Homo sapiens: one gene and its partner. The protein of the gene in region 2 purifies or fractionates together with the protein of the main gene of each other region. This does not show direct contact. Each region holds a gene or a part of one and is shown on either strand. Other genes may lie near its edges.

Region 1 (4,848 bases), about 140 Mb from region 2:
TATTTCTAGCTCTAGATCCCTGAGGAATCGCCACACTGATTTCCACAATGGTTGAACTAGTTTACAGTCCCACCAACAGTGTAAAAGTGTTCCTATTTCTCCACATCCTCTCCAGCACCTGTTGTTTCCTGACTTTTTAATGATTGCCATTCTAACTGGTGTGAGATGGTATCTCATAGTGGTTTTGATTTGCATTTCTCTGATGGCCAGTGATGATGAGCATTTTTTCATGTGTTTTTTGGCTGCATAAATGTCTTCTTTTGAGAAGTATTGATGGGACATATCTCAAAATAATAAGAGCTATCTATGACAAACCCACAGCCAATATCATATTGAATGGGCAAAAACTGGAAGCATTCCCTTTGAAAACTGGCACAAGACAGGGATGCCCTCTCTCACCACTCCTATTCAACATAGTGTTGGAAGTTCTGGCCAGGGCAATTAGGCAGGAGAAGGAAATAAAGGGTATTCAATTAGGAAAAGAGGAAGTCAAGTTGTCCCTGTTTGCAGACAACATGATTGTATATCTAGAAAACCCCACTGTCTCAGCCCAAAATCTCCTTAAGCTGATAAGCAACTTCAGCAAAGTCTCAGGATACAAAATCAATGTACAAAAATCACAAGCATTCTTATACACCAACAACAGACAAACAGAGAGCCAAATCATGAGTGAACTCCCATTCACAATTGCTTCAAAGAGAATAAAATACCTAGGAATCCAACTTACAAGGGATGTGAAGGACCTCTTCAAGGAGAACTACAAACCACTGCTCAAGGAAATAAAAGAGGATACAAACAAATGGAAGAACATTCCATGCTCATGGGTAGGAAGAATCAATATCGTGAAAATGGCCATACTGCCCAAGGTAATTTACAGATTCAGTGCCATCCCCATCAAGCTACCAATGACTTTCTTCACAGAATTGGAAAAAACTAAAGTTCATATGGAACCAAAAAAGAGCCCGCATCGCCAAGTCAATCCTAAGCCAAAAGAACAAAGCTGGAGGCATCACACTACCTGACTTCAAACTATACTACAACGCTACAGTAACCAAAACAGCATGGTACTGGTACCAAAACAGAGATATAGATCAATGGAACAGAACAGAGCCCTCAGAAATAACGCCACATACCTACAACTATCTGATCTTTGACAAACCTGAGAAAAACAAGCAATGGGGAAAGGATTCCCTATTTAATAAACGGTGCTGGGAAAACTGGCTAGCCATATGTAGAAAGCTGAAACTGGATCCCTTCCTTACACCTTATACAAAAATCAATTCAAGATGGATTAAAGATTTAAACGTTAGACCTAAAACCATAAAAACCCTAGAAGAAAACCTAGGCATTACCATTCAGGACATAGGCATGGGCAAGGACTTCATGTCCAAAACACCAAAAGCAATGGCAACAAAAGCCAAAATTGACAAATGGGATCTAATTAAACTAAAGAGCTTCTGCACAGCAAAAGAAACTACCATCAGAGTGAACAGGCAACCTACAAAATGGAAGAAAATTTTCGCAACCTACTTATCTGACAAAGGGCTAATATCCAGAATCTACAGTGAACTCAAACAAATTTACAAGAACAAAACAAACAACCCCATAAAATTAACTTTTAAGCTGATACTTAAACACGTTGATAAGTAAATGTTTATGAATTGTTTTTGTCTCCCACTTAAGAATTCTTTATCCACTCAAAAAACACAGGCAGATCTTGTCTGCCAAATTATAATTTTTCATAATTTTATTTTATTTTTTTGAGATGGGGTCTTACTCTGTTGCCCAGGCTAGAGTACAGTGGCATGATCACTGCTCACGATAGCCTCGACCTCGTTGGGCTCAGGTGATCCTCCTATCTCAGCTTCCTGAGTAGCAGGGACTACAGGTGCATGCCACCACACTGCCCAGCTAATTTTTGTATATTTTGTAGAGACAGGGTGTTGCCATGTTGTCCAGGCTGGTCTCAAACTTCTGGGCTCAACTGACCCACCCACCTCGGCCTCCCAAAGTGCTAGGATTATAGGTGTGAGCTTCTGTACCTGGCCTTGTCTGCCAAATTAAATATGCTGGTTATCCACAGTTGTGCAGGTAATGGGAATGTTGAATACTTTTTTTTTTTTTGAGACAGAGTTTCACTCTGTCACCCAGGCTGGAGTGCAGTGATACGATCTCTCAGCTCACTGCAACCTCCACCTCCCAGGATCAAGCAGTTCTCCTGCCTCAGCCTCCCGAGTAGCTGGGACTACAGGTTCATGCCACCATGCCTGGCTAATTTTTGTATTTTTAGTAGAGATGGGGTTTCATCATGTTGGCCAGGCTGGTCTTGAACTCATGACCTCAGGTGATCTGCCCACCTCGGCCTCCCAAAGTGCTGGGATTACAGGCATGAACCACTGTGCCCAGCCTAAATTCTTGATATTACCATGATACTTTATGTATGTCTTAGCTGATTCAGGTAGGATTTAATATGGGATTTTAATTTGGAATTTATTTATACCATTAAAGAAGCATTTAGTATATACTTTCATTCAAAATTTCCAAAAATCCATTAATAATGTCACCATGCATAAGATATTTTTCAATGCATCTTTTCTTTTTTTTTTAAAAAAAAAAAAAAGCTTTGTCAAGTTAAACTGGTGTATCTTTTGACTATTAAAAATTATTGATTATCTTTTTATTTTCAGGGTGACTGTCGTTCCTACAGTTACGTGTGTGGAATCTCCAGTAAAGATGAACCTGACTGGGAATCACTTATTTTTCTGGCTAGGCTTATACCTCGCATGTGTCACAACGTTAACAGGTGTGTTTCACAGGAGCTAGGGTGGGGGCTTGTGTAATGGAAGGATGTATTTCTTAAGGGCTTTCAATTAATGGAAGACCAAAAGGCTCAAATGTAGATATAGGTAGGTCATGTAGATAAGAGTAAATGGCTGTGTTTGTAATTCAAATATGCACATAGGTTGCAGTTAAGTAGATATTTAATATTATCTTGTGTTTTGACTCTTCATCACAATGTAGTCATCTGTTAAAAATTATTTAAAGGAGAAAGATTTTTATTTTAGTGTAAAATATTAAAGGCAGCTGTAAAACATCTTCTAAATTAGTGGTTTATATTAGCTGTTGGTTTTATGGTAACATGTTTTATTCCAGAAGGATTGAAAAAAGTATGTCCAGGTTACAGAATTACAAATAAAGTAACACACACACACACACACACACACACACACACACACACCCCTACAAAACAAACAACCCCCACTCCAAACAAAAATGGAGACTTGGTTAATTTAGTAGTAACCCCAAGGAAAAAAATCAAAGAAAAGAAATAGGCATGTGCCAGATAGCATTAAAATAGTTACATTTAAATATATAATTTACATTTAGATTAATTTCCCTTTAATTTGCATATTAACTTCTTACATTGGATATATCAACAGCTGATTTATAATCTATTTCTAATCCTCAATTTCATCGTACCATATATAGTTCAAAAATTCACTTATTTTGTACTAGATTGCTAATTAAATGTTCTTACTTCACAGTTATTCTCTCTGTTCAGTTTTCTTCATGGGTGTTAGGCAGTTAACAACCAAAAAGAATTACTTGAGGTTTCATTTTACTCAAATTGCTGCAGAAATCAGAAGCTTACCTTTTAATGTTAAGCTAGCAGAGTCTGTATAGTTCGAGATAAGGAGTTACAGGGAAGCCATGTTTTTACCGATGGGAACATGCTCATTCAAAGGCTTACTCAAATGAACTGAAAACCGTCAAATACAGAAGCATCTTTAAAATGCTGAAAAATAGAATTATTACTATCTTCAATAATGGGGGCCAGGCATGGTGGCTCACGCCTGTAATCCCACCACTTTGAGAGGCCAAGGCGAGTGGATCACTTGAGCCCAGGAGTTTGAGACCAGCCTGGGCAACATGGTGAAACTCCATCTCTACAAAAAATACAAAAATTAGCCAGGCATGGTGGTGTGTGCCTGTAGTCCCAGCTACTCGGGAGGCTGAGGCAGAAGAATGGTGTGAACCCGGGAGACAGAGCTTGCAGTGAGCTGAGATTGCACCACTGCACTCAAGCCTGGGCGACAGAGCGAGACTTCATCTCAAAAAAAGGAAAAAGAAAAAAAAAAGAATCTTGGTGAACTTTAGATTTATTTGCTGGGGTCTTTTTGATGAATTGGAGTTTAAAAATATTCTTCCCTGTTTGCCGGTTTTTTTCCTAATTTGGATAAGGGAATCTTTGTACAGGGAGGGACTGTTCCAGTTTTACTGTCATATATAGTGTGGGTAAATACCTGTCCCAGTACACTCTAGTGATTACTTTTGTTTGTAAGAAATGAGAAGGTGAAAAGAGCAGGTTCATGGCATTCTCTTAACTTTCTCCTGTAAAGATCTTTTATGAACTTTAGGAACTGTATTGTTTAGAAAAATTATAACTTACTGTCTATACGTGGGACAAAAACCTTGCTTCTGTTGTAGTATGTTTGGAAGGAGACAATAAAGTAGTTGGTGATACCGGTGGTTTTGTGCTAATATGGTTTTCTATTGTGTATTTTACCTAAGTACATATTAAGAAAAGAAGAAAAAACATTAAACTTTACCATGATAGTTTCCGGGGAGATTTATTTTCTTTGCTAAAAACAGGACTAACGAAAAGTGAATAGGGAGAACTAGCTAAGTGGCACTCATATCTCTACCCTGATTCCCTCTTGTTTTCTGGGTGAAGATTGTGAAACAGATCCCTTCAAACCAGTGGCCAGCTACACTTCAAGTTGTTAAAATTGTCTGATTCTAATTTCCTCAAGTTATGTTCCAAACTGTACTCTCATTAACTCAAGA
Region 2 (4,848 bases):
CAGGTTCTGCCTGCACGGTTCAGGCCATGGCTCATGGCAGCATTACAATGCCTGTTGAGCTTCCCAAAGCAGAAAGGTCCACTGCCCACCCCGGGGAGCAGTGAGCGGGTCCCTGTGGGTCGCACTGCGCACACGCCTCTGTTCCAGCCCCTGCTGCTGCCCAACAGCACAATCCTCTCTTCTCATGTCCATTTCCCCAATTAGACTGGGAGCTCCCTGTGGCCGTGACAGTGTCCACACACACGTCTCTGGCTGCCCACAGCTCTGCTCTGCAGAGGGCTGGGTAAATGGTGAGCGCTCGTAAAACGTTGAAATGAACAGCAGTGATAACTTGGCCTCGGGTTCCATCAGACACATCAGCGATCTCTCCTCCAGACTAAAACTGAGCGTGCTGAGAACAAAAACTGCATCTTGCTTGACTGGCTTCTGGTACCCCCTGGCACACAGCAGGGGTCTGTGCCATTTTGTTAAATGGATGAATCAAACAAACAGGATTACCATGTCAGGCTCTGAGGCAAGATGGGCAACTGTTCTCAGCTTCACCAGGATTCCCAAGCACCAGAACCACCTCTCCCAACTCCCAGGGCCTACCCCACCCACAGTTTCAACAGACCCCATCAGACACGGACACCAGGCAGTGCCACTTGGAGGGAAGCCCCGGTGAGGCCACAGGGACACAGAGGCTCTTGCAGCTGAATGCACAGAGCCCGGAGGCACCCCCTCGGGGCACGGCACCATCCTCTCTGTCAGTCTTAGCAAATGCTGACTACTGACTAAGGACCTATTAGGTCGCAGTCCCTGGAGATTCGGAGAGCTCAAGCAGTAATTTTGAGCCTCCTCAATGCTGCTGCCTTCTCCCATATATTTCCCCAGGAACCCCATTTTTAAAAAGATTTGTTTCTACCAAGCAAGCTGTGTTTATTAAGCAATCATTTAATTTCCTATTTTCCTTTCATAGAAAAAAATCCCTATGTACCAATCATAGGCTTCTGACCAGCATGGGCTCACAACCCTGTGACCATCAACTGTGCAGGACCCCAGCCCAAGGCAAAGCAACCTGACATTTCCCTTCATCCGCGTGACCGTCTAAAGGAGAAACGTAGGACCCCCCCACCCGAGGATGACTACATTCATCCTAAGAGAATCAGGCCTGCCACAGAAGACTGCTGGAGGAAACACCTCAGTACACCACCCCTGTACTGGGAGAGGAAAGAGATGAAGCCCCAGTGACATTCACCTTGCCCAAGGCCGTGAGTGCTAAGAGGCAAGGCCCGGGCAGGTCTGGGCAGGAAGTAAAAGCAGAAGAGGACTCCTGTTCTGCTGTCCCTTGTCCCAAGTGCACAACAGAGGCGAAGGGTGGCATCCCTCACCACCTCCCTCCCTCACCACCTCCCTCCCTCACCACCGCCCTCGGAGTCCTCTGCTCGGGGCTCTCCATCCAGCCCAGTCCCCCAGCCCCTGGACTCCCCACGCCACCCTCCCAGACAGAGGCCCACCTGCTGCCGCTCCCCCGGGGTCAGTGTGGGCGAGAGGCCGGCTGGCCTGCTGGCGTCCAGGCTGTTCTTGGTCAGTGCGAGGGGCTGCTCCAGGCCAAGGCTGGGGAGGGAGGTGTACAGGTGGCTGCCGTGCAGGCTCATGGTGGGGGCCACAGCGCGCTCGATGGGGCTGCGGCTCCGCTCCCGGGGGTCTCTGCGGCAGTCTCCATTGGCAGTCTTGTTCCTGAAAAAGAGGAATGGGCATTCAGGGGGCGTTTTCTCAAAGGCAAAGGGGACAGTGACTGTGCGCCAGGCACTCCGTGTTGCTTATTTAATTTTTTACCCTGAAGCTCAGGTCGTGTGGCTGGGCAGCACGATGAGGAGCCGGTTGCCAGCCCGGGTCAGCCGGACACCAAAGCCTCTGGGTGCCGGAGAAGCTGCTGCCAGCGGAGTCCAAAGTCAGCTCCATAGAAGATGGAGCCCCCGACTCAGTGGCGTCCTCTGCCTGACTCTGTGTTCACTTCTATAATAATCTCCACTCCCTGGGAGCCTGGGGAGCTGGAGGCCAAGCTGGTTCGATAAGGACCTGCCATTTGGACAGGACGGGGACGCTGACAACGATCCAGAGTCACTGGCTGCGTCCTACATGCAGGGCCCTATTCAAAGCCTCCACAGCACTGCTCAGCCCATCTTCCTCACAGTACTGCTCAGCCCGTCTTCCTAACAGCACTAAGCAGGCAATGCTGCCACCATCCCCTTTCCAGACCAGAACCCCAAGACTCAAGAGTGGTGGAATAATCAGCTCAGACTCCCAGCTGACATGTGGTGGCACGTGCTCTGGGGTTCCCGGGGTGCTGTAGGGAGCCGGCGCGCAGCTCTCTCGTCCAGGACACACGAGCAGGAGTGACCTGCGTCCAGAAGGTCCATCACTAGCCCTGGCCATGTGCTGAGCACCCAGGCGATGCCACGTGGAATCCAGGTGAGACAGTCAGCACCACCTCCATCTGATGTGTTAGTCTGAAGGCAGCGTTACGTGTTGCATCTATTAGACACCAACCCCACACAGGTAAGCCATGGCCAGCCCTGGTCCACCCTCCCTGCTTTATTCCAGGGGTCCCACAGTTCCATCTGCCTTGGGTCTTGCCCCTTCAATCCACCATATTATCCGCTGACAGAGTAACCTTTTTCCGTAACTCATGAGCTGGTCATTTAAAGAAAAAGGTGGTGAATTATGATTTGAGTGAATTTTAAGAAATACAAATTATTTTCAGAGTCTACAAGTAGTCACCTGTCTTAACTAGCAGAAAAGCCTAGGCCTGCCCTGGTGAAGCAGCAGCCACAGCCCCCGTCCCGGACTGGCTGAATATGTTACACACACAATGAATGTTACACACACAATGTTACGCATGCACACAGAATGTTACACACACACTGAATGTTACACACACGCACACCACACACACACACGCATGTGATAGGCGTACCTTTCTAAAACTGTAGATTAACTTCAGTTGTAAGAAACAACACACGGCCATCCCATGCACCCTTTACCTTGACTCCCGCGATGGTGACATCTTGTAAAACTACAGTACAATATCACAACCAGGATATCGACAATGAGACAACTACCAACCTTATTCAGATTTCGTGTTTTGCTTGTATCCATTCCAGAGCAATCTCTTTATAAGGCAAATCCAACCACATCCAGCCCTTAGTGAATGTTTTTAGCAGCTCAGCACGGGCCTTGGTAGCCTCTGGGCCTGACCACCTTCCCGTCCTCATCTCTGGCTTCACGCCTCCAAATGTTGTGTTCCGTAGTTCCAACCATCTACTTGCCATTCCTCAAATAAGATGCGGCCACTCTCTGCCTCTGTGGCTGTGTACACGCGGTGCCGCTCTAGCCTCCCTCCTCCCCGTCCTGCGCTGCCAACCACAGCTGCAGTGTAGAATCCCAAGGCGCCCCGTGCAAACCTTTAATACAGAATCCATCCCCCACCGTCAATGATCTCTTCGTCTACGCACCCGCCCCTCCTCACACACGGCAGCCTCTGAGGGCGTCGAGTCCCTCCTGTCTCATTACGCTTGCTACCAGGGGTGCACAGAGACTTAACGGGTGAATGAAGAGAAGCAGCATATGGGTGACCGTGTAAGAAAGGCAGGTATCGTGGAGTGGAACTGTGGGTGGGCAGAATCATGGAGAGCTGGAGGGCTGAGGAGTCAACTGGAGGCGCATTCAAGCCTTTAGATGGACCCTGCGGCCCAGTCGGTGAGCTGCTAAGGGCTGAGCAGGAGAAGCACCAGAGGGGGCCTGAGTGCAGCCTCGGCTGTGATGTTGTGATGTCATTCTGCGCCATCTCCAGCAGGGGCACGCGCTCAGCTTAGTGACCCGAGGCGTTCCGAGCCTCGGCGTCCCCATGTAACCATGTGGTCACAGTAAGATCCACCCAGAGGACTCTAAATGGGGGACAAACAGCACACAAACAAAAACAATCAGAGCGGCGCAGTGCAGCCCTCAGTGAGCGCCAAGAGAACCCTGTCAGCCCTAAACCGAGTATATTGATTATAGGGTGATTAGCTGTACAGGACCCAGTATTCGTTTATGGGGTTTTTTTCTTCCCCTTTATTTTCTGGCTGATGATACAGAATATCTTAAAAGCAATTAAGGATTAAATGTTCAGCCCATTAAGACAATCATGGAAGAGAATGTTCTGGCAGAGTCTAGATAGTAGGTTCCATCCACGCCACACACATCCTGGCGATTTTCAAAACGTTAAAATACTAAAAACCTTAATACTGAAACCAGCCTGTCCATAATGTCATCTGTCTGTGGCGATTCAGAAGACAGCACAGGTTTCTGCAATGAATGCCTCAAGGGTTATGATCCCAGACACCGATGTCACCAGAAGACCTTCCGCGGAACGGACGTCAGGCCAAGCAGTCCTGAGATCTGCTGGCTTCTACCTAAACGGGACTTGGTTCCTGAATACTCAGTTCATCAGTGTCACCACACATCCTCATCTTCAGTGTCCCGCTCCCTTCTAAATTCAGATAAAGATACAATTTTATTGTTAACAACATGAGTGAATGGCTTCTCTCCACCCCAGGTGATGCTTCCACGGGCCACTTCATGAAGTGCATAGACCTGGGGGCTCATGTCCCAGATTCAGGAGAGCCTCAGACACAGTCTGCCTCCGAATTTAGACGTCTGTTTACTCAACCAGCGCTAGTTAAGTCCCTGTTCTGTGGAGGTTCCAGAACTGCAGGGTTACAGCCCTGCCTTCTCATGGGCTTACAATCTAGCAGGGACAGAAAGGCCCGGGAGGGGCTGCAGCTCCCAAGTGACAGCTCTGGATCCGGGCAAGGATAAAGACAC

The links.
Region 1: the proteins of VGLL4 (region 2) and GMPS purify together in Homo sapiens (co-immunoprecipitation; one large-scale study listed by IntAct). This does not show direct contact.

The regions. Positions count from the first base shown.
Region 1 is NC_000003.12:155,929,078-155,933,925, forward strand, and holds part of GMPS (GMP synthase [glutamine-hydrolyzing]), read left to right. Parts: intron 1-2,687; coding exon 2,688-2,803; intron 2,804-4,848. UniProt on the Homo sapiens protein: Catalyzes the conversion of xanthine monophosphate (XMP) to GMP in the presence of glutamine and ATP through an adenyl-XMP intermediate.
Region 2 is NC_000003.12:11,563,301-11,568,148, forward strand, and holds part of VGLL4 (transcription cofactor vestigial-like protein 4), read right to left. Parts: intron 2,542-4,848; exon of another isoform or gene 1,720-2,541; coding exon 1,497-1,719; exon of another isoform or gene 986-1,496; coding exon of another isoform or gene 959-985; intron 1-958. UniProt on the Homo sapiens protein: May act as a specific coactivator for the mammalian TEFs.